7 linked regions of the Homo sapiens genome follow. The protein of the gene in region 3 purifies or fractionates together with the protein of the main gene of each other region. This does not show direct contact. Each region holds a gene or a part of one and is shown on either strand. Other genes may lie near its edges. The genes, in order: IFFO1, ESPL1, DUSP16, GARRE1, CAMKK2, WDR62 and IFT172.

Region 1 (3,500 bases), 5.9 Mb from region 3:
CGGATAGAAGATTCATTCTTACTGTAGAGCTTACCAACCTCAGCATCGGATTCTTTTTCTTATTAAGTTGAAAACTTTTACCTTTTCACTTAAAGGGAGCATATTTTGGCTTCTCTTTCACATATCCAAATTGCCAGCATCACTACTCTTGTGCTTTGGGGCCATTATGAAGTAAAAATAAGGGTTCCTTGAACACGGGCACTGCCATACCACGACAGTCAATCTCATCACTGAGATGGCTCCTAAGTAACTAATGGGCAGGCAGTATAGACAGTGTGGATCCTTGGGACAGAGGGAGGGTTCATGTCCTGGTCTGGATAGAGTGAGGTTTTTTTTTTTTTTTCCGAGACGGAGTCTCGCTGTGTCACCCAGGCTGGAGTGCAGTGGCTTGAACTCGGCTCACTGCAAGCTCCACCTCCTGGGTTCACGCCATTCTCCTGCCTCAGCCTCCTGAGTAGCTGGGACTACAGGCGCCCGCCATCACGCCCGGCTAATTTCTTTTGTATTTTTTAGTAGAGATGGGGTTTCACCGTGTTAGCCAGGATGATCTCGATCTCCTGACCTCATGATCCGCCCACCTCGGCCTCCCAAAGTGCTGGGATTATAGGCGTGAGCCACCGCGCCCGGCAGAGAGAGTGAGATTTTATCAGGCCACTCAGAACAGCGTGCAATTTAAAACTTAGGAATTGTTTATTTCTGGAATATTTCATTTAATATTTTCAGATCAAGGTTCACCTTGGGTACCTGAAGCCGTGGAAAGTGAAACCAGTGGATAAGGAGAGAGTGACTTTATTCTTTTCATTTATTTATTTATTTATTTATTTTTTTGAGACGTAGTCTCGCTGTGTCGCCCAGGCTGGAGTGCAGTGGCGCGATCTCAGCTCACTGCAAGCTCCACCTCCCAGGTTCACGCCATTCTCCTGCCTCAGCCTCCAGAGTAGCTGGGACTACAGGCGCCTGCCACTACGCCCGGCTAATTTTTTGTATTTTTTAGTAGAGACGGGGTTTCACCATGTTAGCCAGGATGGTCTCGATCTCCTGACCTCGTGATCCACCCGCCTCGGCCTTCCAAAGTGCTGGGATTACAGGCGTGAGCCACCGCGCCCGGCCTTGACTTTATTCTTATTGCTGTCACATTGGAGGTGTTTGAGAAGGAAGTCGAGAAATTATTTTCCTATATACTCATTCTCCCAACACACATCAAACTGTCCTGCTCCTGCATCAAACCTGGTTTTCTTGGCCAGGTAGATGAGGTTTCCTGGATTTGTGCTGCTAGCTAAAGACATGGCAAGGGAAACCAGTACTCCCCACCCTCCCGTCTACCGCGGCTCACTGTTTCCTCCTCCTGCCTGACCTGATTCTTGTCTCCCTCTTTTGGATGGTGGATTTAAGGTTTGTGTTTTCACTGTGCCTTCAACCAACTAGGGGCCTTTGTGCGGCCATCTTCGTGAGAAGAGATCTCGGGCTGCCATCTCTCCCTAGTCTTCCCTGGACCTCAAGTGCCCAGTGTAAAACATGATCTGAAAGAACGAAAATAATATCTTAAATGGAATCATGCCTTTTAAGCTATTTTTGGCTGGGCGTGGTGGCTCTCGCCTGTAATCCCAGCACTTTGGGAGGCCAACGCGGGCAGATCACTTGAGGTCAGGAGTGTGAGACCAGCCTGGCCACCAACATGTGAAACCCCGTCTCTACTAAAAATACAAAAAGTAGCCAGGCATTGTGGTGGGCACCTGTAATCCCAGCTACTTGGGAGGCTGAGGCAGGAGAATTGCTGGAATCTGGGAGGTGGAGGCTGCAGTGAGCTGAGATTGTGCCACTGCACCACAGCCTGGGTGACAGAGCAAGATTCCATCTCAGGAAAAAAAAAAAAAAAAGTATTTTCAAATCATCTGACTCCTCCTCTCTCCCAGTGCAATGACTTTAGGCAGCAGTCCCCAACCTTTTTGGTACCAGGGACTGGTTTGTGGAAGACAGTTTTTCCACTGACCCGGGGGAAATGATTTTGAGATGATTCAAACATTACATTTATTGTGTACTTTATTACTATTTTTAAAAATTATTATTATTATTTTTAGAGACAGAGTTTTGCTCTTGTTGCCCAGGCTGGAGTGCAATGGCGCAATCTTGGCTCACTGCAGCCTCCGCCTCCCGGGCTCAAGCAATTCTCCTGCCTCAGCCTCCCAAGTAGCTGGGATTACGGGCATGTGCCACCACGCCTGGCTAATTTTGTATTTTTAGTAGAGATGGGGTTTCTCCATGTTGGTCAAGCTGGTCTCGAACTCCCGACCTCAGGTGATCCACCACCTCGGCCTCCCAAAGTGCTGGGATTACAGGCATGAGCCACCGCACCCGGCCTGTGCACTTTATTTCTATTATTATTACATTATAATATATAATGAAATAATTATACATCTCACCATAATGTAGAATCAGTGGGAGCCATGAACTTGTTTTCCGCAACTAGACGGTCCCATCTGGGGGTGATGGGAGATAGTGACAGATCATCAGGCATTAGATTCTCATAAGGAGCACACAGCCTAGATCCCTCGCATGCACAGTTCACGTAAGGTAGGGTTCAGGATCCTGTGAGAATCTAATGCCGCCGCGGATCTGACAGGAGGTGGAGCTCAGGCTGTAATGCCAGTGATGGGGAGCAGCTGTAAATACAGATGAAGCTTCACTCACTTGCCCACTGCTCACCTCCTGCTATTTGGCCTGGTTCCTAACAGGCCACAGACAGGTACTGGTCCGTGGCCTGGGGTTTGGGGACTTCTGCATTAGGGGAACCGTTAGGAGGACTTGCTGACCTCAGGAGTACCCAAGGTGCCTTTATCTTTGTGACCTTTGATCTCTCAGGGTCACTAAGATGGAGCAAGGTAAAGCCAAGGCCCAGAGTGGTGGGCGGGAGGCAGTTCTTCCCCACCGCTCCTCACCTCTCTCTGTCTCCTCCCGTCCCACCCCCAAGTCTGTTCACACAGCGAGCCTGCAGTTTTCAAGGTGGCTTGTCAAGGACATCTCCTGACATGCACGTTCACCTCCTGACCTTGTTCCTGCTGTAAATTTGTGAATTAAGTGGGGACATAGACATATGCAGAGACTACTGGTGGCAGTACTAGCCTTGTATTTCAGTAGAATATATTTGGTTCATTTCCTTCTTCCCAGTCTCCCTGAGTGATGGTTCCAGAACCCAGCTCCCTGCACTCCGGTTCTTCCAAGGTGGAGAAATTGGGGTGTAGGCAGCTGATCTGAACAAGGGCTGGTGGCACTGTATTTTCCCCCTGGGTTGAACAGTCACCGTGTCCTGCTCCTCCCACTACTGTGGGGCCCCAGCTGTGGATCCAAGCCTGCCAGGGAAGCTGTCCCCACTAGGGCTTCTCACCCAGCCAGCCGCCATCTCACCCCAAATGTCACTGTCCTGACCATCTCTGCTGTCTGGCCCTGTAACCTGTTTCCTTCTTTCTCTAAGTTCCCACCCTCTCTGTCCAATCCACATTATG
Region 2 (3,500 bases), about 41 Mb from region 3:
CAGACCAAACTGGAGAGGAACCAGTGAGTGTGTATGGTGGAAGGGGATATGCATGCAATAGGTACATACACCACATGAGGGGGCGGGGTTGGCAGGTGGGCCTCCTGAGCCACACCCACCCAAGGCAGGAGACACCTAAGAATGAAATACTCTGAGTGCCTTCAACTCAGAGGCTGCAATCCACTCCACCCCTATGTTCATCATCCACACCCTTGAAAACCTGCTTCTCCTGTAATCCTTCTCAGCAAATGGCACTGCCTTCTCCTGAGTAAGAAATGTGGGGCCATCTCTGATGTTCCCTTCTCTCGCTCTCCCTCCCGCCAGTCACCTACCAGGTTAATCCTTGGCTTCTCGCACCGATCCACTGCATTCCATCCCTCGTGCAGCTGCTTCAGTTCAGCCCACCCTTCCCTGCCTAGAATACTATAGCAGCCTGATTACCCGGTCTTTTCTCCTGCACTCCATTCATCACAGCGAAGTCAGGGAAATCCAAAATGCCTGTCTGCTGTCATGCCTCCACTTAAATCCTTTAGAGGCTTATCATCTCAGTTAAGATGAAACCCAAGCCCCTCTATGACTCATCTTGCTTGCCAATCCCGCCAATGCATCAGTTCACAGGTATTCTTGCTTAAGAACACTGGTTCTTGCCCAGCGCGGTGGCTTGCGCCGGTAATCCCAGCACTTTGGGAGGCCGAGGCGGGTGGATCATGAGGTCAGGAGTTCAAGACCAGCCCGGCCAAGATGATGAAACCCCCGTCTCTACTAAAAATACAAAAATTAGCCAGGCATGGTGGCGCATGCCTATAATCCCAGCTACTCAGGAGGCTGAGGCAGAGAATTGCTTGAACCCAGGAGGTGGAGGTTGCAGTGAGCCGAGATCGTGCCACTGCACTCCAGCCTGGGTGACAAAGCAAGAGCAAGACTCAGTCTCCAAAAAAAAAAAAAAAAAAAAAAAAAAAAAACCAAAAAACCAAGAACCCAGGTTCTCACTCTCCTTGCTCAAAGGACCACCTGGGGGATCTTTGAAAATATTCAGATGTGAGATGGAGTCTTGCTCTGTAGCCCAGGCTGGAGTACAGTAGCACAATCTCGGCTCACTGCAAACTCCACCTCCTGGGTTCAGGCAATTCTCCTGCCTCAGCCTCCAAAGTAGCTGGGATTACAGGCACATGCCACCACGCCTGGCTAATGTTTGTATTTTCAGTAGAGACGGGGTTTCACCATGTTGGACAGGCTGGTCTCAAACTCCAGACCTCAGGTGATCCACCTGCCTCAGCCTCCCAAAGTGCTGGAATTATAGGCGTGAGCCATCACGCCCGGCAAACACTAGAGATTCTGATGCAATTAACTCGGGGCAGACATTAGAATTTTCTTAAAGGTCACTCAGGTGATTCTAATGTGCAGCTTGGCTGGAAACCAGTAGCTTAGGACCAGGCTAAATATAAAAAGTGAGTCAGGCCGGCTGCGGTGGCTCACACCTGTAATCCCAGCACTTTGGGAGGCTGAGGCAGGCGGATCACCTGAGGTCTGGAGTTTGAGACCAGCCTGGCCAACCAAAATGGTGAAACCCCGTCTCTACAAAAAATACAAAAATTAGCTGGGCGTGGTGGTGGGCACCTGTAATCCCAGCTACTTGGGAGGCTGAGGCAGGAGAATTGCTTGAACCTTTGCTGAGGCAAAGGTTGCAGTGAGCCAAGATTGTGCCACTGCACTCCAGCCTGGGCGACAGAGCGAGACTCGTCTCAAAAAAAAAAAAAAAAAAAAATGAGTCAACAGTAAGTAACAGTACAGTGAGGTTTGGGAAACACTGCTCCAGATACTGGTGTCAACATGCTGCTATTAACCTCCCACTCCAAGGCAGGGTGCTGGTGAGGCCCTTCCCCGCTCCCCCCGCTCCCCAACCACATAAGCTCCTTTCCTGCATCTCTCATTCCCTTGTACCTTCTCAGGAGGCACCTCGGGATAAGTGCCTGGCTTCACCAAACCCAGGTGCTGACAGAGCGGCTCAGAGATGGCACAGGCCTCGGCATAGAGCTTGTGACTATAGAAGCTGTAGGCCAAATTACTGGTGTAAGAAGCTGCAGGGGAGAAAAGGCACAATTGACCATAGGAAAGGCTCCCACCACCCTCTCCTCCTGGAGAGGCAGCAGAGATCAGCTGGATCTGTGGTCAGTTCAGCAGCTTCCAGATCAGACAGGAACCCCTACTGCTAGGAATGGGGAAGGGGCGGCTCTCCCCTTCCTGCCCCAAATAGGCCCATGCCCTTCACACCACTCAGCCCATCTGCACTCATTTTACAAACGAGACCCCCTCCTGCCTCAGCACTGGCTGTTTCTTCTGCCAGGGATGTTCTTTTCCAGGAACCCACATGGCTGACTCCCTCACATCCTCCAAGCCTTTGCTCATGTCACCCTCTCAATGAGGTCTACCCTGACCACCTGATTTAAGGTGGTAACTTGCCCCCCGTCATGCACCTTAGACTCCCAATTCCCTTTCTTATCCTGCTCTACTTTTCCTTTCCCCCACATTTCTTATCACGTTCTAATATGTTGATAATTCACTTATTTACTGAATCTGTTTATCTTTTCCCCCCAAACTAGAACGTGGCTCCATGAGGGAAGGAAACTTTGTTTTGCTTACCGACACATCCAAGTACTCCAAATAGTGCGTTGCACACAGTGAGTACTCAACAAATTTTTTTTTTTTTTTTTTGAGACAGAGTCTTGCTCTGTCGCTCAGACTGGAGAGCAGTGGCACGATCTTGGCTCACTGCAAGCTCCACCTCCCGGGTTCACACCATTCTCCTGCCTCAGCCTCCTGAGTAGCTGGGAGTACAGGCGCCTGCCACCACGCCCGGCTAATTTTTTGTATTTTTAGTAGAGACGGGGTTTCACTGTTAGCCAGGATGGTCTCGATCTCCTGACCTCGTTATCCGCCCGCCTCGGCCTCCCAAAGTGCTGGGATTACAGGCGTGAGCCACTGCGCCCGGCAACAAATATTTGCTGAATAAATGATAATAACTTATTTATGCAGCTTCTTGGCCATCAACATAGATGACTGGGAGAAAATAAAGTCAGTCTTCAGTACTCTGTGGGAAGAATTCTCCTTTTTTTTTGAGATGGAGTTTCGCTCTTGTTGCCCAGGCTGGAGTGCCCTCTTGCCCAGGCTGGAGTGCAGTGGTGCAATCTTGGCTCACTGCAACCTCCACCTTGCAGGTTCAAGCGACTCTCCTGCCTCAGCCTACCAAGTAGCTGGGATTACAGGCATGCACCACCTTGCCTGGCTAGTTTTCTATTTTTAGTAGAGACAGGGTTTCAGGGAAGCCAAGGTGGGCAGATCACTCGAGTCCAGGAGTTCAAGACCAGCCTGGACAATATGGCCAGACATCATCTCTACAAAAAATACAAAAATTAGCCAGGCATAGTGGTGCGCGCCTGCAGTCCCAGCTACTTGGGAGGCTGAGGCAGGAGAGTCGCTTGAACCTGCAAGGTGAGCTCGTT
Region 3 (3,082 bases):
TCCCTCCACACCTCCCGGCAAGCTGAGGGAGCCGGCTCCGCCTTGGCCAGCCGAGAAAGGGGCTCCCACAGTGCAGCGGCGGGCTGAAGGGCTCCTCAAGTGCCGCCAAAGTGGAAGCCCAGGCAGAGGAGGTGCTGAGAGTGAGTGAGGGGTGTGAGGGCTGCCAGTGCGCTGTCACCTCTCACTAATTTCCCCTTAGTTTATTTTTTGTTTAAAATGGAGTTTCGCTCTTGTTGCCCAGGCTGGAGTGCAATGGCGAAATCTTGGCTCACTGTAACCTCCACCTCCTAGGTTCAAGCAATTCTCGTGCCTCAGCCTCCCAAGTAGCTGGGATGACAGGCACCCACACCTGGCTAATTTTTGTATTTTTAGTAGAGAAGGGATTTCACCAGGTAGGCCCGGTTGGTCTCAAACTCCTGACCTCAGGTAATCCACCTGCCTTGGCCTCCCAAAGTGCTGGGATTACAAGCGTGAGCCACCGCCCCCAGCCTCCCCTCTTAGTTTAATTCCTGGTCTAATTGTAGTTGTCACATCCAAACCAGTCCTCCAACAATAGCCTGCTGAGGCTGGTCATGAAGGGGCTCCGAGCACTGTCAGCAACTGGCCTGAACTTCAGGCTCTCCCAAGATCTGCATCTTCTCATTGGAAGCCTCTCACTGAAACAACTGTTCCTCCTGTTACCCTCTATCTCTGGAGGCTGATTTATTCTAATTCCCTTTATTCCTCTATCTCACTTCCACCTCTTTTTCTGCAGGGTCCTGGCCAAGATAGCTCTTCTAGTCTAGCTCACCCGGCCCAATCTTTCTTATAAATTTTCTTAAATGTAACTTCAACTCAACCAACTTCAAGGTCACCTGTGATTCTTTCTGTAGTCAATATTCCATCTGTTTGCACTGAAGCTTTATTCCTTCAATGCCTAATTTTTATGAAACTGATGAGACTAAGTTTCTAGTCTCATAAGTCATCAAATCTAGTGTCATGAGCAGAGAGGTTGTTGAGATGTATGTGGCAAGGACAAAGGACAGCTCTTCAACAATTGCCCTTCCTGTTTTTCCTGTAGGAATCGTAACATCATTTACATGTTATATCGAAATGGGCCATGTGTGTGTAGCTGGCCTTTTTTTTCCTACCATGTACTTGTGTGTTCTGGAATCAGTCAGCTAGAAAATATTTACCAAGTGTCTTAGGCTTTTTCACTGTAGTGTGCATTTAACGTACACAGTAAAGAATGAAGGCTGGCACTAAACTGTTAGCTAATCATCCGGTGTTCCATGTGAATGACAGAACACGGAATAAACCTGATGACACCACCACTTTATTTTGAGCTAAATCCTCATTTAAGTGAGAACAGGACAGGTTTCACCACTGCCTCCTTTGGCAACTTGAGTGGTGGTGTTCCCACCGAGTTTATGGCTGCAAAGATAGGTCTTTTCTCGTATTTATGTATAAACAGGTACCAGTTTTGATTTTATTTAATCATTTCATACATTAACATACATGACACATCAAAATGAGAAATGCACAGTTTAACCGTTCAACAGCTGGCCTTACTTCAAAAGAACACTATATTCATATTAAACATTTACAGTCTTTCCATCTAACTTTACACATGTCCTAAATCATTTTCCAGCACTTCTCACATAGAAGTCTAGTTTTGCTCTTTAAAATCACCATCTGTATCACCCCTAGTAGACGCGAGGGTTTCCCCAATTACATGCTGAAGAGAGCCAGCCACCACCCCACCTAAAGACATCCAAGCAGCTCCAGAGCCTGCCTCCGAGGCCACCCCTTCGCCACGGCAGTCTCGATTCCAAGAACTGATTATCTGACACTAGTGAACCAGCACTAAAGGCTGTAGGATGTGACTACATCACAGTTCCAGAAGGAAGGGGGACCATGGCCAAGAGAAGCCCTAAATGACAGAAGCTCATTAAAACCAAGTCCCCCAAACCTCCTGAAACATCGTTAGCAAGGAGCTACTGCTTTCCTTTCTTAAACATGTTTTGGGCATGACCACACTCTGGAAGTGGTGAACTGTTACACATTTGGTGTGTGTGTACATAACATCAAAAACTACTGTGTGAAACTTGAGAATGTCTGATTAAAGATTTCAATGTATATCTAAAAACTAACTCAAATCGTTGACCAGCACTTTCCCAGTATCATAACAATGCGGCTGACCCTCTTCTGCCTTCACTTTACACCCCATCATAGCACATTATTTGTGCACAACTAGTGAGGTCTGTGCGGCTCATCATCCCCATAACCAAGTCGGTCTGTGTTGAGTCATATCATTCTGTGCTGGTTTTAGAAGTCACCATAGGAAACATGAAGTCACATCCTGGTCAAAAAACTGTCCATTTCTCAAAAACAGAGAAAAACCTGAGATACGAGGCAGCAACTAGCGACACTTACAGGAAGGGAAAGAACAATGACAACACCCGCCCAGCCCCACCCCCAAAAAGCTGCTGTTGTGAATTAAGGCTTCAAAAGAGGACCCACATTGTAGCTGATAAAACTCAAGCCAGGAGGATGTTTGAAAGCCAATCTGCACTATCACTTGTTCCAGTGACCTCCTATGTTCAGCTGCCAGGACCGATTCCATACAGTGATTGTAGGTTGAGGACTGAGGACGCCCCTTTGCTCTCGCTCCATTTTGATTTGCTTTTTCCACTGAAGACACGCCGGCCAGCGTTTCCAAAAACAGCTTGGCCATGGCTTTGCACTCTATTCACAACTGATCAAAACTCAATGGTCTTCTCAGCTTTCTCAACCGTTTTATTCTGAATATTCCTTCCTCACTAAAGCCTCTCTCAGCCCTACTAGTAAATGTGAAAGTCTGAGGCAATCATAGAAACATCAGCCCCATCGCATGCCGAGGGGATAAAAGCCACTAAGGAAACAGGTTTCCTGCTTCTCCTCAGCAATTTGTACCTTTCTTAATCTTCCCATAATTTACCTCCCTAGGAAGTTTCCTATAAAATTCTGCCATATTATTACATTTTACCAACTGTATCCATGCAGTGAAGCAGAAAGGGCAAAAACATCTGCTTTGGCTGAGAATTTGAAGGTGCTGCTGCTC
Region 4 (3,500 bases), on a different chromosome or scaffold from region 3:
CGTGTCCCTGTTGTTGCCTCTGGCTGCAAGGGTCTCTCCCTTGCTTAGCGTCTGTCCTCCCAGTACCATCTGAGTAGAAGATAGCTGCACGTGGAGATTTCTTGGTAAGGAGAGAATGTGAGTGGTTGAGGGCTCTGCATCTAAGCTGCTTGGATCAGATCCTGGTCTTGGGATGCTGGCTAATCTTTCAGTTTTCTGATTTGTAGAATGGGGATAATAGTAGCACCTTTCTCTTAGTGTTGCAGTGAGGGCTCTGAGCGTGCTACCCGGCACCTGTGATAAGTATTCAATGACAGTATTAGCTCTCGTTGGTATTCATAAAGTAGTAACTGGCCTCTGGTTCATACATCAGTTTTCTTTGAGCTTAGATAGCCTAAATAATTAATCCCCATGGAACTGCTTGCTTCTGGGTGCATTGAATAAGCTGATAAACAGACACTGGGAAGTAATGACAGATAAGCTCTTCCTACACTGCTCATCCAGGGAATCCAGCCTGCAGTTCTCAGGGGAGACTTCTGGAGAAGGCTGTTCTTGAGCTGAGTACTGTGGGAAAAAGTAAGTCCAGTGCCACAGCAAGAGGGGAGGACTCTTGGGCAGGGGCATGACACGTCCAAAGGTGTGGAGGTGAGAGCAAGCATGAGGTATTTGAGCTGCAGGAGATTGAGGGTAGAGTCTGGACAGGTATGAATAAGGAGTAGAGGGAAATGACATTGGAAAGTGGGAGCAGTCCTTGAAATAACTAATAACAATGTCTAACTGGGCACTAACAGCACTTCAGGTCCTGTGCTGAGTCCTTCGACTCACTGCGCTAACCAGGTTTGATGCTGAGAGCTTTGTCTACATTGCATTGTTTAATCCTCACAACAACCCTTTGATGTAGGTACTTACCTCTGGTATGTGTGGCATCATGTCACATGTCACCTGGTAGGTCTCCCTGCCTTTTTTTTTGAAATGGAATCTTGCTCTGTCACCCTGGCTGGAAGGCAGTGGCAGGATCTCGACTTACTGCAACCTCTGCCTCCCTGGGTTCAAGCGATTCTTCTGCCTCAGCCTCCCGAGTAGCTAGGACTACAGGTGAGTGCCACCATGCCTGGCTAATTTTTGTATTTGTAATAGAGGCGGGGTTTCACCATATTGGCCAGGCTGGTCTTGAACTCCTTACCTTGTGATCCGCCCACCTTGGTCTCCCAAAGTGCTGGGATTACAGGAGTGAGCCACCATGCCCAGCTGCTGCTTTTTTTTTTTTTTTTTTTTTTTTTTTTGAGGCGGAGTCTCTCTCTCACCCAGGCTGGAATGCAGTAGTGCGATCTCAGCTCATTGCAACCTCCACCTCCTGGGTCGAAGCAATTCTCCTGCCTTGGCCTCCCAAGTAGCTGGGATTACAGGCATGCGTCACCACGCCCAGCTAATTTTTGTATTTTTAGTAGAGATGGGGTTTCACCATATTGGCTAGGCTGGTCTGGAACTCCTGACCTCAGGTGATCCGCCTGCCTTGGCCTCCCAAGGTGCTGGGATTGTAGGCGTGAGTCACCTCGCCTGGCCTCTGCTTCTTGATTCAGCCTGCACATGGCTGCCAAGATAACTCCCAGTGTCTTATATATGTTTAAAAGCTTTTTGTGATCCTGTTTCCTGATGAAGTCCAAGCACACTAAGATCCTCTGACTTCATGAAAAACCACGAAGTTAAAATGTAAAAATATTTATATCTTAGAATTTAATAAAAACAGGACAGGTGCAGATGTGGATCAAGCTCAGAGAAATCAGTGAAAGAAGCAAGGTACAGAACAATGTATGTTTGCCCATTTGTGTTTTTCTAATTTTAAAAAATTTCTCCACTTTTGAAGTAATATGAGCTCATTTGTTTAAAAAAATATATATAGGCCAGGCATGGTGGCTCACGCCTGTAATCCCAGCACTTTGAGAGGCTGAGGCGGGCGGATCACCTGAGGTCCAGAGTTTGAGACCAGCCTGACAACATGGTGAAACCCCACCTCTACTAAAAATACAAAAATTAACTGGGCATGGTGGCGGGTGCCTGTAATCCCAGCTGTCCAGGAGGCTGCAGCAGGAGAATTGCTTGAACCTGGGAGGTGGAGGTTGCAGTGAGCCAAGATCGTGCCACTGCACTCCAGCCTGGGTGACAGAGCAAGATTCCATCTCAAAAAATAAATAAATAAAAATAAAATAAATAATGTCTCCCTCTCTCGATAGAGAGATAGATAGATAGATAGATAGATAGATAGATAGATATACATGAAATAGGTTTATAAGTGCAGAAATAATTTATGGAATGATAGAAAAGAAACAGTGGTTGTTTTTGGGATGAGACCCCAGAAAACCAGGCTGTTAGGCTGAGTTAGCTTTTTCTTTGCATACCATTTTGTATGGTGTGAATTTTTTTCCCTGTGTATATGTATTTTCTTTTTTTTCTTTTTTTTTTTTTGAGACAGAGTCTTGCTCTGTTGCCTAGGCTGGAGTGAAGTGGTGCAATCTTGGCTCACTGCAACCTCCGCCTCCTGGGTTCAAGCGATTCTCCTGCCTCAGCCTCCTGAGTAGCTGGGATTACAGGTGCCCGCCACTACGTCTGGCTAATTTTTGTATTTTTAATAGAGACAGGGTTTCACCATGTTGGCCATGTTGGCCAGGTTGGTCTCGAACTCCTGACCTCAAGTGATCCATCCACCTCGGCCTCCCAAAGTGCTGGGATTACAGGCGCGAGTCACCGCACCCGGTCTATGTTTTCATTTTAACAATAACTTTTAAAATAAATGTCTATGATGGACATGGCTGTTGTGTAGAGTGAATGTAGCATGGAGGTTAAGAGTGAGGACTGTGCAAGGCGGCTTGGGTTCAAGGCCTGCCCCTGCCTTGACCTCAGTTTACCTCCTCTGAAAATGGGGAGGTAGTAATACCTGCCTCCTGGGGTTGTAGTGAGGCATTACTGAGTTAATATTTGTAAAGTCCTTGGAACAGTTCCCAGGAGGTATGTGTTTGTCGTCGTCTCTGTTGCTCTGTCCCTGTGCTATGCATGACCGTAAGTGTAAAGATGTGTCCAGCCTCTGTCTCTGATGCTCCCAGTTCATTTGGAAAGGGAGAGCATGCAGCTAATGACAGAGACAGCAGAGGCTGCAGGAGTCAGAAAGGCTCCTTGGGAACTGAGGTGGCCCAAGATGGTTTCATCAAAATGATGGTTGTTAAATATGGGTAATTTCTAGAGGGAAAATAACACAAAGGGACTTTTTCCATGTTGTGTGTCCCAGCCAGCCTGAGGCAGGCAGAGGAGTCAGAAACAGGACAAGAGCTTTGAGGAGGCCTGAAATTTGGACGTGTCATGTGATGACATGTCTTTTTTTTTTTGGAGGGGGGGACGGAGTCTTGCTCTGTTGCCCAGGCTAGAATGCAGTGGCATGATCTCAGCTCACTGCAAGCTCTGCCTCCCCGGTTCACGCCATTCTCCTGCCTCAGCCTCCTGAGTAGCTGGGACTACAGGTGCCCGCCACC
Region 5 (3,500 bases), about 110 Mb from region 3:
TGGCCTGAGAGGAAGGCCAGCAGAGATCAGCTCCTGAACCCTTCCATGTTCCAGACAAGGGAAGCGGAGTACAGAAAGGAAGGGAGGACGTGATCTTTGCGGAACAATTAGCTTGAGCCACGCTGTGTACTAGGGACTGCCATAGAGAAGATCAACTCTATAGCCACCCTCTTAGGTAGGTCTGGCACCATTTCACAGATGAGAAAATCAAGGCTCAAGGTCCTCTGGGATCTGTATCCTTTCCTGATGTACCTTCTCTTCCTGAGGTCTTAGGCCTCCCTTGGCTCCCCGCCCCGCCTTTTTTTTTTTTTTTTTTAAAGACAGGGTCTTGCTCTGTCTCTCAGGCTGGAGTGCAGTAGCATGATCTCAGCTCACCGCAACCTCTGCCTCCTGGGTTCAGGCGATTGTCGTGCCTCAACCTTCCAAGTAGCTGGAATTACAGGCACGTCCCATCACGCCTGGCTAATTTTTGTATTTTTAGTGGAGACGAGGTTTCACCATGTAGGCCAGGCTGGTCTCGAACTCCTGACCTCAGGTGATCCGCCCGCCTCAGTCTCCGAAAGTGCTGGGATTACAGGCATGAGCCATCGCTCCCAACTTTGGCTCCTTGTACTGGCAAATTATGCTCGTTTTCTGATGGAGTGGAGTCCACCTTCCCTGGCAGGTTATGGGATGGAAAGCATTTCCGAATAGTTTTGGGCTCTGAGAAATAAGATTTAGAATTATTATTTGTTTTCTTCCCTGATTGGACCCCTTTCTCAACAAAACCAAGATAATAATAATAAAAAAGACATCTTTAAAATGATGTGAGTTCTGTTAGATTTTGTAGGGAAGACCCCTGGCTGCTGCTTTCCCCGTTGGGGACGTTAGTGATCCAAATGGGAAAGGGATTATTTTAGCTGCCAGTGTTTCGGTTTCAGTCATGTTTGTAGTATTGCCACTGAAGTTTTTTTTTTTCAATTATGAAACATTTTAAGCATAGAGAAAAGCCAAAGTTTTGCTTTGTTTTTTTAAACTGGCTCGCTTTTTGGAAAGCTGGAAGGAGGCCCAGGAGGTGACGGAAACGGGGCAGAGTGGGGCGCCCTGGCTCTGCAGGCTCGACCCTTCACCCAGCCCGCTCTTTTGGTTGGGGTGGGGTGGGGGGATTGGTGCTGGTGACAGGCTATACCCTGGGGAACTGAGAAATACTGGGACTTGGTTCCTGTCCCAGGTGAGTGGTCTCAGAGCCTTTTGGAAAAGATGAACAATTCTGACATCCTTTCCCTTTTGAAAAGGAATGAAAGAAAATGAGAAGATTCTGTAGTGCCCCCACCCCCACCCCACCCCATCCTGAAAGCTGCTGAGCAACTATTTTTATGTTGCCTCTTTTTATCCTGGTGGCTTCTGTAAATAGTTGAGAGATGGCAGTTGCAGAGATAAAAATGCTAATCCCAACCTGGAAAAGAGAGGGATGGTGGTCCTCGGAGGAAAGGGGGGTGGGAGTCAGTGGGGAGGCCAAGGTGTTGCCCCTCTGCCCACGTGGCTTAGGCATGAGGCAGGAACCCAGCGGGTGGGGTAGGAGCATTGTGGGTGGTGCCTGAGAGAAGCTTCTGTTAGAGAAGTTTAAATGGGGAACCAGTGTTTTGCGGGGGCCAGGGTGCAGAAGGGAGAGCACACTCCCTTTTTCATTTTTGAAATGTGCTTTGGGGTATTGCCTTCAAGGCTTCTGGCAGAGAAATATTTTATTCGGTTCATCCTGGACAGTTCTGCCCTCTAGGTCCAGGTGTGGGGACGTTGGGCCCCGCAGAGCTGCAGAGCTGGCTCCCTGCACTCTTCTTGTCCCTCAGCTGAGGAGGCTTGCAGCTAGATTTAGCATGATGTCCAAAAGGTGGGGAGGAGGGAGGGAGAGGGGCCGTGGGTAGCCCAGGCACCGATGCCTGTGGGTTTCGAGCTGGCCCTCTCCATCTCTGATTTGCCAAGAGCATGCTGGGTAGAAGTCTTTTTCTTGTTCATTACAAACTGAAATTCCAGTTGTTTTCCAACCTCTTCCTTTGGTTCAGTGAAAGATTGAGAGGGATGCAGTGGGGGAAGAGGAAGGAAGGAAGATGGTTTCTACACTTTATTTCCAAATACCTCCCTCCTCTAAACACATACCCAAACTCACCCACACATTCGTAAGCTCCTCACACTTCAAGGCTGGGGCCACCCATGCACACCTGGTTTTATTTTTATTTATATTTTTTAAATTTAAAAATTTTCGAGACAGAGCCTTTCTCTGTTGCACAGGCTGGAATGCAATGGTGCAATCATAGCTCAGTACAGCCCCAACCTCCTGGCCTCAAGGGATCCTCTCACCTCAGCCTCTGACGGAGCTGGGACCACAGGTGTGCAGCACCACACTTGGCTAATGTAAACATTTTTTTGTGTGGTGATGGGGTCTTGCTGTGTTGCCCAAGCTGGTCTCGAATCCTGGCCTCAAGCGATCTTCCTGCTTCGGCCTCCCAAAGCACTAGCATTATAGGCGTGAGCCACCACTGTACCTGGCCCACAGCTGGCTTTAGATGTCTGACTGCGTGACTGGGGCCATTCTTTCAGTGATATTTCATTACTGACTAAGTAATAGCTGCCTAAGAATTCTTAAGACAGTTGGCCCTGGCAAGCAGCAAGACAGGGGAACTGCTTACTCTGTGAGTATCCAGGGCCTCAAGGGTCACTGGGCTGCAGGGCAGGCCACCTGGATCTCCTCCTGGCCCAACTGCGAGCCTGCTGGGCTGCCTGGATGAGGTCATCTCAACTTCTCTGAGTCTCGGTGACTCCATCTGCAGCCTCTGTTGCGCTGATTGCAAAAGCCATGTGAGAATGTGCTCTTATGACACATGGAAGCAAGGATGTGAAATGATATGCATACGCTATTTTTAATTTTGTAAAATGTGATGCATATGGACAAGGGCTAGAGGGGAAGATGAAGAGTTAGCACGGCAGGATTAGAGATTTAAGAGATTTCGTTTTAAAATAAATTGAAACCAGCTAGGCACAGTGGCTCATGCCTATAATCCCAGCACTTTGGGAGGCTGAGGCAGGTGGATCACTTGAGCCCAGGAGTTTGAGAACAGCCTGGGCAACATGGCAAAACCCCATCTCTACCAAAAATACAAAAAATTAGCCAAGTGTGGTGGTGTATGCCTGTAGTCCCAGATACTTGGGAGGTAAGGTGGGAGGATCACCTGAGCCCAGGAGTTCGAGGCTGCAGTGAACTATGATTGCACCACTGCATTCCAGCCTGGGCAATAGAGTGAGACCCTGTCCCCAACCGCCCCGCCCCCCAAAAAAAGGAAGCCAACTGAGGGTCGTGAATTCAGTAACTGCCAAAGTTCTTTCTTGGCAATAGCTTCTATATAGTGAGCATTCACACTTGTGCCCTCCTGAAGCACTCAGAAGCTGGATGATTGTGAGCAAGTCAGCCAGGCTCTCTGTGCCTCAGTTTCCCCACTGGTGGAACAGGGATAATAGCAGGACCTATT
Region 6 (2,856 bases), on a different chromosome or scaffold from region 3:
TCTGGGAGACGTGGAGGCCTCTGAAGCTGAAGACCACTTCTTCAACCCACGCCTGAGTATCTCCACGCAGTTCCTCTCAAGCCTCCAGAAGGCATCCAGGTAGAAGCTGGCCAAGCACTGCCCACCCTCTGGCTCCTCAACAGTGCCCCAGGGCAGGCTGAATGAGAATCATCCCCCCTGCTCTCCTCCCCACAGGTTCACCCATACCTTCCCTCCCCGGGCAACCCAGTGCCTTGTGAAGTCTCCAGAGGTCAAGCTCATGGACCGAGGCGGAAGCCAGCCCAGAGCAGGTACTGGCTACGCCTCCCCAGACAGGACCCACGTGAGTATTGGGCCCACCTCCGTCAGGGCACGGGGCTGGGAACCCTGAGGCCTTGTCCTCACCTCAGAGCTGTGCCTGCAGGTCCTCGCTGCAGGGAAGGCTGAAGAGACCCTGGAGGCCTGGCGCCCACCACGTGAGTGCCCCAGTCCCAGACGGACAGTCCTGGGTTTCTCGGCGAGTGGCCGGATGTCCAGCCTAGCTGTGGGGCGTGGGGGCCCTAGCCATCAGTTCTGTGTGGTGGAGTCAGTGCCATCTGCTTCCGTTACAGCTCCCTGCCTTACGAGCCTGGCGTCCTGTGTCCCTGCTTCCTCCGTGCTGCCCACAGACAGGAATCTCCCAACGCCCACATCTGCACCCACCCCAGGCCTGGCTCAGGGTGTCCATGCCCCCTCCACCTGTTCCTACATGGAGGCCACTGCCAGCTCCCGTGCCAGGATATCACGCAGCATCTCCCTCGGTGACAGTGAGGGCCCTATCGTGGCCACACTGGCCCAGCCCCTCCGTAGGCCATCGTCCGTTGGGGAGCTGGCCTCCTTGGGCCAGGAGCTTCAGGCCATCACCACCGCGACAACACCCAGTTTGGACAGTGAGGGCCAAGAGCCTGCCCTGCGTTCCTGGGGCAACCACGAGGCCCGGGCCAACCTGAGACTGACCCTGTCAAGTGCCTGTGATGGGCTCCTGCAGCCCCCCGTGGATACCCAGCCTGGCGTCACCGTCCCTGCAGTGAGCTTCCCAGCCCCTAGCCCTGTGGAAGAGAGCGCCCTGAGGCTCCACGGCTCTGCCTTTCGCCCAAGTCTCCCAGCTCCTGAGTCCCCTGGCCTTCCTGCCCACCCCAGTAACCCCCAGCTTCCAGAGGCCCGGCCTGGCATCCCTGGCGGCACTGCCTCCCTCCTGGAGCCCACCTCCGGTGAGTACAGCCCTGGAGCAAGGACTGTCCCCTAAGCTCATCCTGTGTGCTAGTTGGCTCAGCTCCAAAGATGGATACTTGACCTGGCCACAGGGACTGTGCCATTCATTCATTCGTGCATTAACTTAAATATTTAATGAGCATTACATGTTGGGCTTTGTGCTAAACCCTGGGACATGGGACATGGTGGTAAACAACACAGAGAACTGACAGCTTCAATGGGGACAATGCCCAGACTAAACCTTTAAGGAACCCGTCATATGTATCACGAAGTGACACATGCTTAGGAGGGACAGAGGAGGGCGAGGGAGTGCAGGGTGGGGACAGGGGTTGGGATTACAAACCAGAAGATAAGAAGAGGCTTCAGGGAGGAGGCTGCATTGGAGCAGAGACCTGTAGGAGTGAAGGGGAGGGAGCCTTGGGGACCCAGAGAAGTGTTCCAGACAGAAGTACAGCATGGAGTCCACCCAGTCGCTCTGGCCGCTCACACCAATGGAATGCAGCTCATCTTGCTCATTCCCTTCTCTCTACCCCAGGTGCACTTGGTCTGTTACAGGGCAGCCCTGCCCGCTGGAGTGAGCCCTGGGTGCCGGTTGAAGCCCTGCCCCCATCTCCCCTTGAGCTGAGCAGGGTGGGGAACATCTTGCACAGGCTGCAGACCACCTTCCAAGAAGCCCTCGACCTTTACCGTGTGGTGAGCTAAGCCCCAGAGTTGGGAAAGGGTTGAGGGGTCTCTTGAGACCGCCCGGCCTTGGTGGCCCCTGACAAGGCTGGCATCCCTTGCAGTTGGTCTCCAGTGGCCAGGTGGACACCGGGCAGCAGCAGGCACGGACTGAGCTGGTCTCCACCTTCCTGTGGATCCACAGCCAGCTGGAGGCTGAATGCCTGGTGGGGACTAGTGTGGCCCCAGCCCAGGCTCTGCCCAGCCCAGGACCCCCGTCCCCACCGACGCTGTACCCCCTGGCCAGCCCAGACCTGCAGGCCCTGCTGGAACACTACTCGGAGCTGCTGGTGCAGGCCGTGCGGAGGAAGGCACGGGGGCACTGAGGGCGCAGCCCCTCCACCGCAGCCCTGCTGCTTCTGAGGACTTAGGTATTTTAAGCGAATAAACTGACAGCTTTGAGGAATGGTTCCTGGTGTCTGTTTGGGCCTATCCACAAAGCCCTCTTCAAGTGGAAGTGGGGAGGGAGGGTAGAAGGTGATGCCCAGAGGACTCGTGTCTGTCAGTGGAGAGCATGGGACCAGCGCTCCCAAGAAGTTCAGGAACTGCAGCCATGACCTCAGGGCCAGTCCTCCCACACTGCCCACAGAGCTGCCACAGACCAGTGTGAGGTGCTTACCCAGTGGGGCCCATTTGTGCCCCAGGGAGGAGCCAGACCCTCTTACCTGCCCCCTGCCAGTGCCTGAGAACTCACTGGGGCTGCTGTGATCACCATGTGCCTACCTTGCCCAGCAGTCCACGCTTTGCCATATCATGGCTCAGGGCCTCTGGGCCAAGGCCACACTAGATCCCACAAAGTCCACGGTGGTGGTGTCCCCATCTGCAACAGGGGAAACTGAGGACCCATGAACAGGCTTGCCCAAGCTGGGTATGGTGGCCTGCACCTATAATCCCGGCTACTCAGGA
Region 7 (3,500 bases), on a different chromosome or scaffold from region 3:
ACCAAAAGGAAAGAGGCTACAATCATTGGACTCAAGGGCACAACATATTAATGGGATAAAAGGGAAAAACTAGCCCTGCCTACACACAATTTTTTGTCCCTTTTGTGACCTAGGGTAAAGTATGAATTTCTCTTTCCTGCCTTTAATGCCAGAATTTTAGGTCAGGGTCAAAAGGAAAGAGGAGATTCTATAGTGTCAGGGAACAGTGCTTTAGGATAAGGCAGGATTTTTTTCTAGTTTGGTGAAAGTCACCAATCCAGAAAGGGATTACTAGTAACACACCACACAGAGCCGTGAGCCATCCCGCTTCCAGGCCAAGGCAGTGATGGTGTATAAATTGGTAATCTCCTTGGGCTTTGCCTCTTCCCAGATGCTTCTTCGAGGGATCCAGTTGAACACCCGAAGCCTGAAATAAAGTATGTGGCTTTTAGAAGAGATTGAGGCTGAGCTAAAGAGTGCAAATGGGCTGATAACCAAAGGAAATTAGTCTTGCTATATCAGAAAAGAAAGGAAATAAAAAGAACAGACAAGCTAGGCAGTCTAGCAGAAGAGGATATAAAGGTGCACAGGAAATAAGCTGGGAAAATCAAGGCAAAACTAAAACAGAATAAGAGTGAGGGGAGCAGAGAAAACAAAAAGACCAGGGCAGGTGAGAAAAATAAGCTACTAGGAGCAAAAAAATATGGAACAAGGAGATAAATGGTAGGAGTCAGTGAAGAAAGAAGAGAATACAAGGAGACATAAGATTGAAGGGGATAGAAAGACAGGACTGATAAAGCTGGGGTTAAACACATGCCAGAGAAATGATGAGACCTGGAACATGGCTGTTTATCTGCTGTTCCATCATTCATTCATTCATTCGCCAAACATCTGAGCATATCTTAAATATATATAGCATATAGATGCTAATCTAGGCACTGAAAAGATGAATAATAAGCCCCCTTCTCAAGGACTCTGATTTAGCCATCTATCTGGCTAAACAACAGTAGTTTGCAAACAACAAACTGTAATATAATGTGAGAAACTCTAAGCGGTCTCAAAGGGGGCAATGGAAACAGAAAATAGAGATGAATTCTGCTGTGGAAGTGCAGGGAGCGGCACAGAGACAAAACAAGAGCCCAGGACATTTTGGAACTGCCAGCACACCAATGGATAGCGGGAGCAGGAAGAGGAAAGCGCATGAATTACATACATACATTTGATTCTGCTCCAGTCTCGCACTCTGGCTCAGAATAATTTGGCTAAAGCAGAGAGTGTTCGCAGGGAAAGTAGGCAGTAGATAAAACTGGAAAGGGGACTTACCTGTCATAACTTCCTAGCACAACAGACTGGCCCCCAGGACTTGATACAGCTGTGGTGAACTCCCGCTCCTGAGGGTCACGGCTATAATCAAAAGTTTGTAGCATGTGACCTTCTTTTCCATAGGCTACAATTTTCCGATCACAGCCTGCAGCCACGATGCTATTGGTTGCCCATGCCAAGGCATAGGGTGGACACGGGTGGTTAACCAACTTCCCCTAAGACAGAAGTAGAGGGTTTCAATCACTCTTCGAAGACTCCACCCGAGAAATTCCTCACTCTCAACACCTGGTACATTCACTCTGACCATCATACCCTGCAGAAATCTCTTCCAACATTTCCCTATCCCAACACATCCTAATCCTGAACTCTTCACAAATTGTCACACACACACACACACACACACACACATACACACACACACACACCCCTATACACATAGGGGTTGACCTTGTGCTCTAGAAAAACCTCAAAATGCTTGTATATTGGAATTTTCTTTTTTCTTTTTTTTTTTTTTGAGACAGAGTCTCACTCTGCCGCCCAGGCTGGAGTGCAGTGGCACAATCTCATCGCTGCAACCTCCGCCTCCCCAGGTTCAAGCGATTCTCCTGTCTCAGCCTCCTGAGTAGCTGGGATTACAGGTGTGTGCCACCATACCAGGCTAATTTTTCTGTTTTTAGTAGAGATGGGGTTTCACCATGTTGGTCAGGCTGGTCTCGAACTCCTGACCTTGTGATCAGCCCGTCTCAGCCTCCCAAAGTGCTGGGATCACAGGCGTGAGCCACCACGCCCAGCATGTATTGGAAATTTTTAATATGCACCTGGTAAAGCTCCTCAGAAAAGGAGATGTGCTACACATTAACCAACACCGTCTGGGCCCACAAAGAGCATAGGGCTTCTTTTTTTAAGGAGGGTCAAATTTCAGTATTATACGAATAATTCTTCTTTTTTTTTTTTTTTAGATGGAGTCTCACTCTGTCGCCGGGGCTGCAGTGCAGTGGCGCGTTCTCACCTCACTGCAACCTCCCCTCCCGGGTTCAAGCAATTCTCCTGCCTCAGCCTTCCGAGTAGCTGGGATTCCGGGCACGTTCCACCATGCCCGGCTAATTTTTATATTTTTAGTAGAGACGGGGTTTCACCATGTTGGCCAGGCTGGTCCTGAACTCCTGACCTCAGGTCATCCACCCGCCTTGACCTCCCAAAGTGCTGGGATTACAGGAGTGAGACACTGTGCCCGGCCTATACAAGTAATTCTTTTTTTTTTTGAGATGGCATTTCACTCTTGTTGCCCAGTCTGGAGTTCAATGGCATGCGATCTTGGCTCACTGCAACCTCTGCCTCCCAGGTTCAAGCGATTCTCCTGCCTCAGCCTCCCAGAAAGCTGGGATTACAGGCATGTGCCACCACGCCCAGCTAATTTTTTTGTATTTAGTAGAGACGGGTTTCACGTCAGGCTGGTTTCCAACTCCTGACCTCAGGTGATCCACCCGCCTCGGCCTCCCAAAGTGCTGGGATTACAGGCACGGCTCACAAGTAATTCTTAATGTAAATGATTCAAACAACACACAATTATATAGAGTAAAACATGAAAGTTTCCTTTTTATCCCCCATCTTTTTCCTTTCCCCTTTCCAGAGTAAACTATTAACTCTTTTTTCTATGAATCTACATACATAAATATATATATTTTACATAAATGGGAATAATTTTCACTTTTCATTACTCTAAGAGTTTTTATTTCCCTTTGTCTCAAGGTCCCTTTCACCTAATTCATCCCTTCTTATAAGCAGTAAGCTCCAGGCTCCTAAACACAAATCCTCTCAGTGGCCACATCCAACTTTTTCTCTGTCCCTGAGTTCTCCTCTAGCTTCCTCTCTTAGTATCTCAATCCAAATGCCTTAGAAGTCCAACCTCCTCTAGGAGGGCTCCTGGAATTTCCTTATCCCCTATTCCACAGCATCTTTTTTTTTTTTTTTTTTTGAGACACGGTCTTGTTCTGTCACCCAGGCTGTAGTGCAGTGGTGCTATTTCAGCTCACTTGCAGGCTCAACCTCCTGGGCTCAAGTGATCTTTCCACTTCGGCTTCCTGAGTAGCTGGGACTACAGGCCCATGCCACCATGCCCGACTAATTTTTGTATTTATTTTTTGTTTTTTTGGTAGAGACAGGGTTTCACTGTGTTGCCCATGCTGGTCTCAAACTCC

What was found.
Region 1: the proteins of DUSP16 (region 3) and IFFO1 purify together in Homo sapiens (affinity purification with mass spectrometry; one large-scale study listed by BioGRID and IntAct). This does not show direct contact.
Region 2: the proteins of DUSP16 (region 3) and ESPL1 purify together in Homo sapiens (affinity purification with mass spectrometry; one large-scale study listed by BioGRID and IntAct). This does not show direct contact.
Region 4: the proteins of DUSP16 (region 3) and GARRE1 purify together in Homo sapiens (affinity purification with mass spectrometry; one large-scale study listed by BioGRID and IntAct). This does not show direct contact.
Region 5: the proteins of DUSP16 (region 3) and CAMKK2 purify together in Homo sapiens (affinity purification with mass spectrometry; one large-scale study listed by BioGRID and IntAct). This does not show direct contact.
Region 6: the proteins of DUSP16 (region 3) and WDR62 purify together in Homo sapiens (affinity purification with mass spectrometry; one large-scale study listed by BioGRID and IntAct). This does not show direct contact.
Region 7: the proteins of DUSP16 (region 3) and IFT172 purify together in Homo sapiens (affinity purification with mass spectrometry; one large-scale study listed by BioGRID and IntAct). This does not show direct contact.

What each region holds. Positions count from the first base shown.
Region 1 is NC_000012.12:6,542,543-6,546,042, reverse strand, and holds part of IFFO1 (non-homologous end joining factor IFFO1), read left to right. Parts: intron 1-3,500. UniProt on the Homo sapiens protein: Nuclear matrix protein involved in the immobilization of broken DNA ends and the suppression of chromosome translocation during DNA double-strand breaks (DSBs).
Region 2 is NC_000012.12:53,271,299-53,274,798, reverse strand, and holds part of ESPL1 (separin), read right to left. Parts: intron 2,079-3,500; coding exon 1,942-2,078; intron 1-1,941. UniProt on the Homo sapiens protein: Caspase-like protease, which plays a central role in the chromosome segregation by cleaving the SCC1/RAD21 subunit of the cohesin complex at the onset of anaphase. During most of the cell cycle, it is inactivated by different mechanisms.
Region 3 is NC_000012.12:12,472,782-12,475,863, forward strand, and holds the end of DUSP16 (dual specificity protein phosphatase 16), read right to left. Parts: 3' UTR 501-3,082; downstream 1-500. UniProt on the Homo sapiens protein: Dual specificity protein phosphatase involved in the inactivation of MAP kinases. Dephosphorylates MAPK10 bound to ARRB2.
Region 4 is NC_000019.10:34,261,054-34,264,553, forward strand, and holds part of GARRE1 (granule associated Rac and RHOG effector protein 1), read left to right. Parts: intron 1-3,500. UniProt on the Homo sapiens protein: Acts as an effector of RAC1.
Region 5 is NC_000012.12:121,286,710-121,290,209, reverse strand, and holds part of CAMKK2 (calcium/calmodulin-dependent protein kinase kinase 2), read left to right. Parts: intron 1-3,500. UniProt on the Homo sapiens protein: Calcium/calmodulin-dependent protein kinase belonging to a proposed calcium-triggered signaling cascade involved in a number of cellular processes. Isoform 1, isoform 2 and isoform 3 phosphorylate CAMK1 and CAMK4. Isoform 3 phosphorylates CAMK1D.
Region 6 is NC_000019.10:36,102,753-36,105,608, forward strand, and holds the end of WDR62 (WD repeat-containing protein 62), read left to right. Parts: coding exon 1-99; intron 100-195; coding exon 196-322; intron 323-403; coding exon 404-455; intron 456-590; coding exon 591-1,229; intron 1,230-1,765; coding exon 1,766-1,923; intron 1,924-2,015; coding exon 2,016-2,276; 3' UTR 2,277-2,356; downstream 2,357-2,856. UniProt on the Homo sapiens protein: Required for cerebral cortical development. Plays a role in neuronal proliferation and migration.
Region 7 is NC_000002.12:27,479,744-27,483,243, forward strand, and holds part of IFT172 (intraflagellar transport protein 172 homolog), read right to left. Parts: intron 1,518-3,500; coding exon 1,303-1,517; intron 407-1,302; coding exon 283-406; intron 1-282. UniProt on the Homo sapiens protein: Required for the maintenance and formation of cilia. Plays an indirect role in hedgehog (Hh) signaling, cilia being required for all activity of the hedgehog pathway.